Homo sapiens: one gene and its partner. The gene in region 1 interacts genetically with each later gene. Each region holds a gene or a part of one and is shown on either strand. Other genes may lie near its edges.

Region 1 (3,360 bases):
CAAAGATACCTAGTAAGCCAACAAAGGAGGTAAGACAGAAACATAAAATACTCAACCCAGAGGAAGGCAGGTAAAGAGAGAACAAAGGGCAGATGAAACAAAAAACAAATTGCAAGATGACAGACTCAAAACTATATGACTAAGCACATTAAATACGAATGTCAAAAATAAATACTCTTGGTAAATGACAGATTGGCAGGTTGGAAAAATAAAGCAAATCCAACAATAAGTTATGTGCAAAAAGACATTATCTACTAAAAAAAAAAAAAGCTTGAAAGGATAGAAAAGATATACCATGCTAACACTAGTCAAAAGAAAGCTGGAGGCCAGGCACAGTGGCTCACGCCTGCAATTCCCAGCACTTTGGGAGGCTGAGGTGGGCAGATCCCTTGAGCCCAGGAGTTAAAGACCAGTCTAGGCAACATAAGGAAACTCCATCTCTACTAAAAATACAAAATTAGCCGGGCATGGTGGCGTGGGCCTGTAGTCCCAGCTACTTGGGAGGCTGACGTAGGAGAATCGCTTGAACCCACAGGCAAAGGGTGCAGTGAGCCGAGATCGCGCCATTGCACTCCAGCCTGGGCAACAAGAGTGAAACTCTATCTCAAAAAAAAAAAGAAAAAAAAAAAGAAAGCTAGAGTGGCTACATTAATACAAGACAAAGTAGATTTCAAAGCAAAGAAAATCAAATATAGTCATTTCACAAAGGGAGTCGACTAATGAACATAATAATCCTAAATGCCTACACCTCTAATAACACAGCTTCAAAATACGTAAAAGAACTGCAGGAAAAATAGATAAATCCCATATCCTGCTATTGACTCAATGGTGCCCACCCCCGTTCCTACGTTGAAGCCCTAACCCCTAATATACCTGTATTTGGAGGAAGGGCCTCTAGGAGGTAATTAGGGTTAAATAAAATCGTAAGGGTGAATTATTAATCCAATAGGATTAGTGGCCTATAAGAAGAGGAATAGAGTAGGATTTCTCTCTCCATGCAAACAGATCTCAATAAATTGAGAAGAATTTAAGCATGCAAAGTATAATCAAATTCAATTAGAAATCAATAGGAAGGCCAGGCCTGGTGGCTCACGCCCATAATCCCAACACTTTGGGAGGCCGAGGTGGGTGGATCACGAGGTCAAGAGATCAAAACCATCCTGACCAACATGGTGAAACCCCATTTCTACTAAAAATACAAAAAGTAGCTGGGCGTGATGGTGCATGCCTGTAGTCCCAGCTACTCGGGAGGCTGAGGCAGGAGAATCTCTTGAAACCAAGAGGCAGAGGTTGCAGTGAGCTGAGATTGTGCCATTGCACTCCAGCCTGGTGACAGAGCAAGACTCCGTCTCAGAAAAGCAAAACAAAACAAAATCAATAGGAAAAATTCTGGGAAATCCTCAAATATTTTAAAACTAAACACAGTTCTAAAATCTGTTTAAGAAAGATGTCTAAAGGGAAATTAGAAAGTGTTTTCAATTGAATGAAAGCAAAAACACAACTTATAATTTGTGAGATGCCACTAAAGCAGTACTTGGGGAAAATGTGTAGCACTAAACATCTGTGTTAGCAAAGATCTCACAGTAATGACCTCAGCTGCTACATTAACCAACCAGAAAAAGAGCACATTAAACCTAAAGTAAGCAAGAGGCCAGGCGCGGTGGCTCACACCTGTAATCCCAGCACTTTGGGAGGCCGAGGCAGGCAGATCACAAGATCAGGAGTTCGAGACCATCCTGGCCAAGATGGTGAAACTCTATCTCTACTAAAAATACAAAAATTAGCCAGGCGTGGTGGCAGGTGCCTGTAGTCCCAGCTGCTTGGGAGACTGAGACAGGAGAATCGCTTGAACCCAGGAGGCAGGGGTTGCAGTGAGCCAAGATCTTACCACTGCACTCTAGCCTGCTCAACAGAGTGAAACTCCATCTCAACAACAATAAAAAGGATAATAAGGAAATTTTTTTTTTGAGACCAAGTTTTGTTCTTGTTGCCCAGGTGGAGTGCAATGGCACGATCTCAGCTCACTGCAACCTCCCTGCCTCCCGGGTTCAAGCAATTCTCCTGCCTCAGCCTTTCGAGTAGCTGGAATTACAGGTGCCCGCCACCATGCCTGGCTAATGTTTTGGTATTTTTAGTAGAGATGGGGTTTCACCATGTTGGCCAGGCTGGTCTCGAACTCCTGACCTCAAGTGATCTGCCCACCTCGGCCTCCGAAAGTGCTGGGATTACAGGCGCGAGCCACCATGCCCAGCCTCTGAAGGACGCTTCCAAGAAAATACACAAACAACAAACTAGGAGACACTATTCGCAAATCATATATCTGGTAAAACACTCATATCCTAAATACGCAAAGAAATCTCAAAACTCAATAATAAAAAAAAAACCCTATTCACAAATTGGACAAAATAAGTGAACACATGGTTCACCAAAGAAGATATTTTGTCAGCAAACAGGCACACGAATAGATGCTCCACATCTTCAGTCATTATGGAAATGCAAAATAGAACCTCAGTGAGATAATATTTCACGCCCACTAGGATGGCTGTAATTTAAAACAAAAAATCTCAAGTGTTGACAAGGATGTGGAGGAACTGGAACTCCCATATGCTGCTGGTGGGAATGCAACATGGTGCAACCACTTTGGAAAAGAGTTTGGTAGTTTTTTTTTTTTTTTTTTTGAGACGGAGTCTTGCTCTGTCGCCCAGGCTGGAGTGCAGTGGCGAGATCTCGGCTCACTGCAAGCTCCACCTCCCGAGTTCACGCCATTCTCCTGCCTCAGCCTCCCAAGTAGCTGGGACTACAGGCGCCCGCCACCATGCCCTGTTAATTTTTTGTATTTTTTAGTAGAGACGGGGTTTCACTGTGTTAGCCATGATGGTCTCGACCTCCTGACCTTGTGATCCACCCGCCTCAGCCTCCCAAAGTGCTGGGATTACAAGTGTGAGCCACCCCACCCGGCCAGTAGTTTCTTAAAGAGCTAAATATGGACCTACCATATGACACAGTCATCCCCCTCCTAGGTATTTACCCGAGATAAGTGGAAGCATTTGTCCAGACCAAGATTTGTACACAAAGGTTCACAGCGGCTTTATTTGTATGAGCAAAAACTGGAAATGATCCAGAAATCCATCCACATGTGAATGGATAAACAGGCTGTGTTAGATCCGTACAGGGGAATGGGCTTTTGACACATGCAACATGGATGTGTATCACGGATGAATATCAAAGGATTTTAGACTTGGATAAATATCAGCATGATTATGCTGAGTGAGAGTGTGGGGAAAAGCAAGAGAGATCAGATTGTTACTGTGTCTGTGTAGAAAGAAGTAGACATAGGAGACTCCATTTTGTTCTGTACTA
Region 2 (3,819 bases), about 16 Mb from region 1:
GTATTCCTCATACATCAGATTATTTTTACCCGATGAGGCAGTGCTTTCTGTCCACTAGTATGTAGTATGTTGCTTTGGTTAGTAGGTAAAATATCTGCAGCAAGCATAGTTTTTCTTTTTTTAACTAGAGGGGTGTGTATGCTCCCAGTGACTCACATATTCATGCAGTAAGTAATATAGCTTTAGATCCAAAATATTTATCTTCATTTTACTTAGTAAATGGTGAGTAGGTATTTGAAGACTAAAGAAATAAGTGAGTTTTAGTCCTTAAAACTGGGTTTGTAATTTATGCCATTTAGAGAATGGCATCTTACAAGCATGTGAAGTACTAAAGTTATTTCTACTTTCATTTATGTTGTATCTTGGGGAAGGGAAGGGCGTTTCTCTGGAGAGACTTATTGGCTTATTCTCATGTTCCCTTCATGGACTCTGTGCCATTCTTCTTTATATTGCAATATAGGTATACAATCCTGAAAACTGATATTACCAGGGCAAGTAACACAGGATCCCGTTGTCAGAATTTGCTGCCTGAAACGGTGAAACCAAGGGCCATTCTTCTGGGGAGGAGAAAGATGAGTGTGTAGTAGATTTCCAAGTGGGAAATACTTTTCTTAAGGTCCTCAGAGATAAAGACAAGCGTGTTCCTTCACAGCTCTGAAGTGACCCTTTTTACATGACTTGGAGTTGCCTTCTTATTTTTGGTTGAATGTTTTTTTGCTTGATGTACCCCTAGCACTCATTTCATCTCCATAAAACTAGCAGAGATCTAGTCCTTGCCCACTTTTTTTTTCCCCCGTCAGAGAAAGGAGAAGAAGACAGGAAGTAGATTTGTGTGGTATGGACATTGATGAAGTTGAGTTTCAAGTCTGGAAGGTCTGTTTCCAGTTGGTAGTTTCTGTCTTGCACTGGCTACTTCCAAAGTCAGTCATCAGAGAACAGAGCGATCCACTGTACTGCTCAAATGCACTCTTTCTCTGGGGCAGTGGAGCTGAAACAGTGTTATCCACTGCTTTCAGTACTGGAAAAGGGAAAGAGCCAACTCGATTTTTTTCCCCCTCCTTAGGCGGAGCAACACCCATGCACTTCTCTAATTACAGTGGTAGAAACAGCCTCTCAAAATGTGACCTGCCTATTTCAAATGCCAAACAGTTAACATAGTTTGTTTCATCTGCCTAACCTCCACTTGTTTTCTCTAATTTTTTTTTTTTTTTGCTATTCTTTGTCTTTTAATATCACAAATGAAAATGTGCTACAAACCTAGGCTCTTTGATGAGGTGAAGATACTCAAGAGACAGCGTGAGAATTAAGCTCTGTCAGTAACCATGACCAACAGGAGCCTGTTGTCCCTGAATGATCGTCACTGGATTTTGAGGGGTCTGCTGGGAAAGAATTTACATTTTTGTGCTTTCAATGATGCTACTAAAGTTGTTTTGAATCTTGAGTCATTTCCCTGCTAAGAACATAACACATATTGTACTTCATCTGTGACTTCAACTGAAGCTCTGCATTTTTCAGTGTTAAGGGTTAAAAAATCAGCTACTCTTCCCCTTTGATATTTTGTTTTGAAGGCCTGTTTCAGAGAAGGTATTTGCATTGGCTCATCTGAGCAGGGTGGTGATTTCTATTCCTTCTGTAAGAATGAAAGTTGGTGTTTAAGGGAAGAAAAAAAAGAATGAGTCTCCTCTTGGCTGTGTGAGCTGAGGGATTCCAGAAAACAAGACTACTTAAGGAAGGTGGCCTTTAAACAGAAAGGGGGCAGTAGCGAGTGAGTCACCAGCCTTTCAGAAAAGGGATGCGCCGTTGTCCTCATCCGCCACGGTGTTCTGAGAGCTGAGTTGTATGGACACCAAGTACCAGGAGATAGGAGACTGAGGTACAAGTTGGGTGGAATCATGAGGTAGGCCAGATTGAGCAGAGGATCTGTCTGTCCTCCCTATGGCCAACTTGAGCAGAGGATCTGTCCTCCCTATGTACTGCATTGACCGCTGCTTGCACTGTGTGGCCTCTGGCTGCCCGCTGGTTTTCAAAGTTAGTGCCAGGGTTTTCCATTATTCTGTCTTCAGGAGGGGTTCAGCCCTTGGTACCTCAGTTTTGATTGGTTACCCATCCCCAAATTGTAAGTTATGTTAATTAGAGATAAACTCTTGGAGGTTTAGTTCCAAAAAGATAGAATGCATGGAAGACTGAGTATAATTTGAAACCTAGAGTTTTTGTAGTAATGCCAGGTCAAAGCATTATCTCAGTCTCAAAGATGAAATGGTCAGTAATGCCTGAATTACAGAGAAAAGTGGTGGAGGTGGACAGTTAGAACTGCCTTTCTGTGGTTGGGTGCAGTGGCTCATGCCTGTCATCCCAGCACTTTGGAAGGTTGAGGCGGTCGAATTGCTTGAGCCCAGAACTTTAAGACCAGCCCGGGCAACATGGCAAAACCCCATCGCTACAAAAAATAGAAAAAGTAGCTGGGCATGGTGGTGCAGCACCCGTGGTCTCAGCTACTTGGGAAGCTGAGGTGGGAGGATCACTTGAGCCTGGGAGGTCGAGGATGCAATGAGGTGTGATCGTGCCACTGCATTCCAGCCTGGGCGACAGAGTGAGAGCCTGTCTCAAAAAACAAAACCAAACAATAACAAAAAATGCTATTTTTCTTTTCAACAGTGTTTTTCCTCCGTAAAACTGCATTAATACTTAGAAGTAGGGATGGTTAGATAAAACTAGTGTTGAGTGTTCCCATTTGGTGCTATATACTTGTTATAAAATGATTTCTGATTAATGACTTTCTGAATTGCTACTCTTTTACTTTATACGGTAAGTGAAAGTGTTTCGTTAATTTATTCACACATCAATCCTACCCCCGCCACCAGAAGCTGGGGTTGTAGCATATGGAGAGGCTATTTATCCTCATAGGTCGTGAAAGCCGAATAAATGTTTACTTTTGCAGATAAATCTGATGTTTGAGTTTCCTTTTCTTTATATTATTTTATTTTTTTGAGATGGAGTCTCGCTCTTGTCTCCCAGGCTGCGGTGCAATGGTGCAACTTTGGCTCACTGCAACCTCTGCCTCCTGGGTTCAAGCAATTCTTCTGCCTCAGCCTCCTGAATAGCTGGGATTACAGATGCATGCCACCATGCCCAGCTAATTTTTGTATTTTTAGTAGAGACGGAGTTTCACCATATTGGCCAGGCTGGTCTTGAACTCCAGACCTTAGGTGATCCTCCTGTTTCAGCCTCCCAAAGTGCTGGGATTACAGGCGTGGGCCACTGCACCCAACCAGAGTTTCCTTTTCTTTACATTTTTTGGTGGTTTCCTGCCCTCCGAGTATTTCACTCTCCTGGATGATACTATTGAAATTTAAGTTTTTAGACACATTAACTCCTCACTTGCTCAATTGTTTTTCTTCATGCAGATTCAGAGTATTCCATTTCCAAATAGCATTAGTTTCACAGCTGCCCTATCAGGATAAGTCCAACTCCTTAGCAAGACATTGGAAGACTCTTAAAGTCTCCTGCCTGACCTCTTCAGACTTACCTACAATGCTTTCCTTCTTCCTATCCCTGGGTCATTGTGAATAAGTTGCAGTTTCCCAGAAAGTGCTTGTTTCAATTCTTTCCTCAACCCCGTTTGCCCAGATGATATCTGTTTCACCTGTTAAGTCTTAGTCTAAGGTTTAGCTCTGGTCTTTCCCAATTGTCCTATTCTACATGTTCTTCCTATCGTAGGACCTTTTTTTTTTTTTTTTTTTTGTGAGACAGAGTGTCACTCTGTCACCCAGGCTGGAGTGTGCAGTGGCACAGTCTCACTTCACTGCAACCTTTGCCTCC

What was found.
Region 2: changes in FN3K (region 1) and PRKCA together harm fitness more than expected from each alone (negative genetic interaction), as found in Homo sapiens cells (one large-scale study listed by BioGRID).

What each region holds. Positions count from the first base shown.
Region 1 is NC_000017.11:82,745,412-82,748,771, reverse strand, and holds part of FN3K (fructosamine-3-kinase), read right to left. Parts: intron 1-3,360. UniProt on the Homo sapiens protein: Fructosamine-3-kinase involved in protein deglycation by mediating phosphorylation of fructoselysine residues on glycated proteins, to generate fructoselysine-3 phosphate.
Region 2 is NC_000017.11:66,309,012-66,312,830, forward strand, and holds part of PRKCA (protein kinase C alpha type), read left to right. Parts: intron 1-3,819. UniProt on the Homo sapiens protein: Calcium-activated, phospholipid- and diacylglycerol (DAG)-dependent serine/threonine-protein kinase that is involved in positive and negative regulation of cell proliferation, apoptosis, differentiation, migration and adhesion, tumorigenesis, cardiac hypertrophy, angiogenesis, platelet function and inflammation, by directly phosphorylating targets such as RAF1, BCL2, CSPG4, TNNT2/CTNT, or activating signaling cascade involving MAPK1/3 (ERK1/2) and RAP1GAP.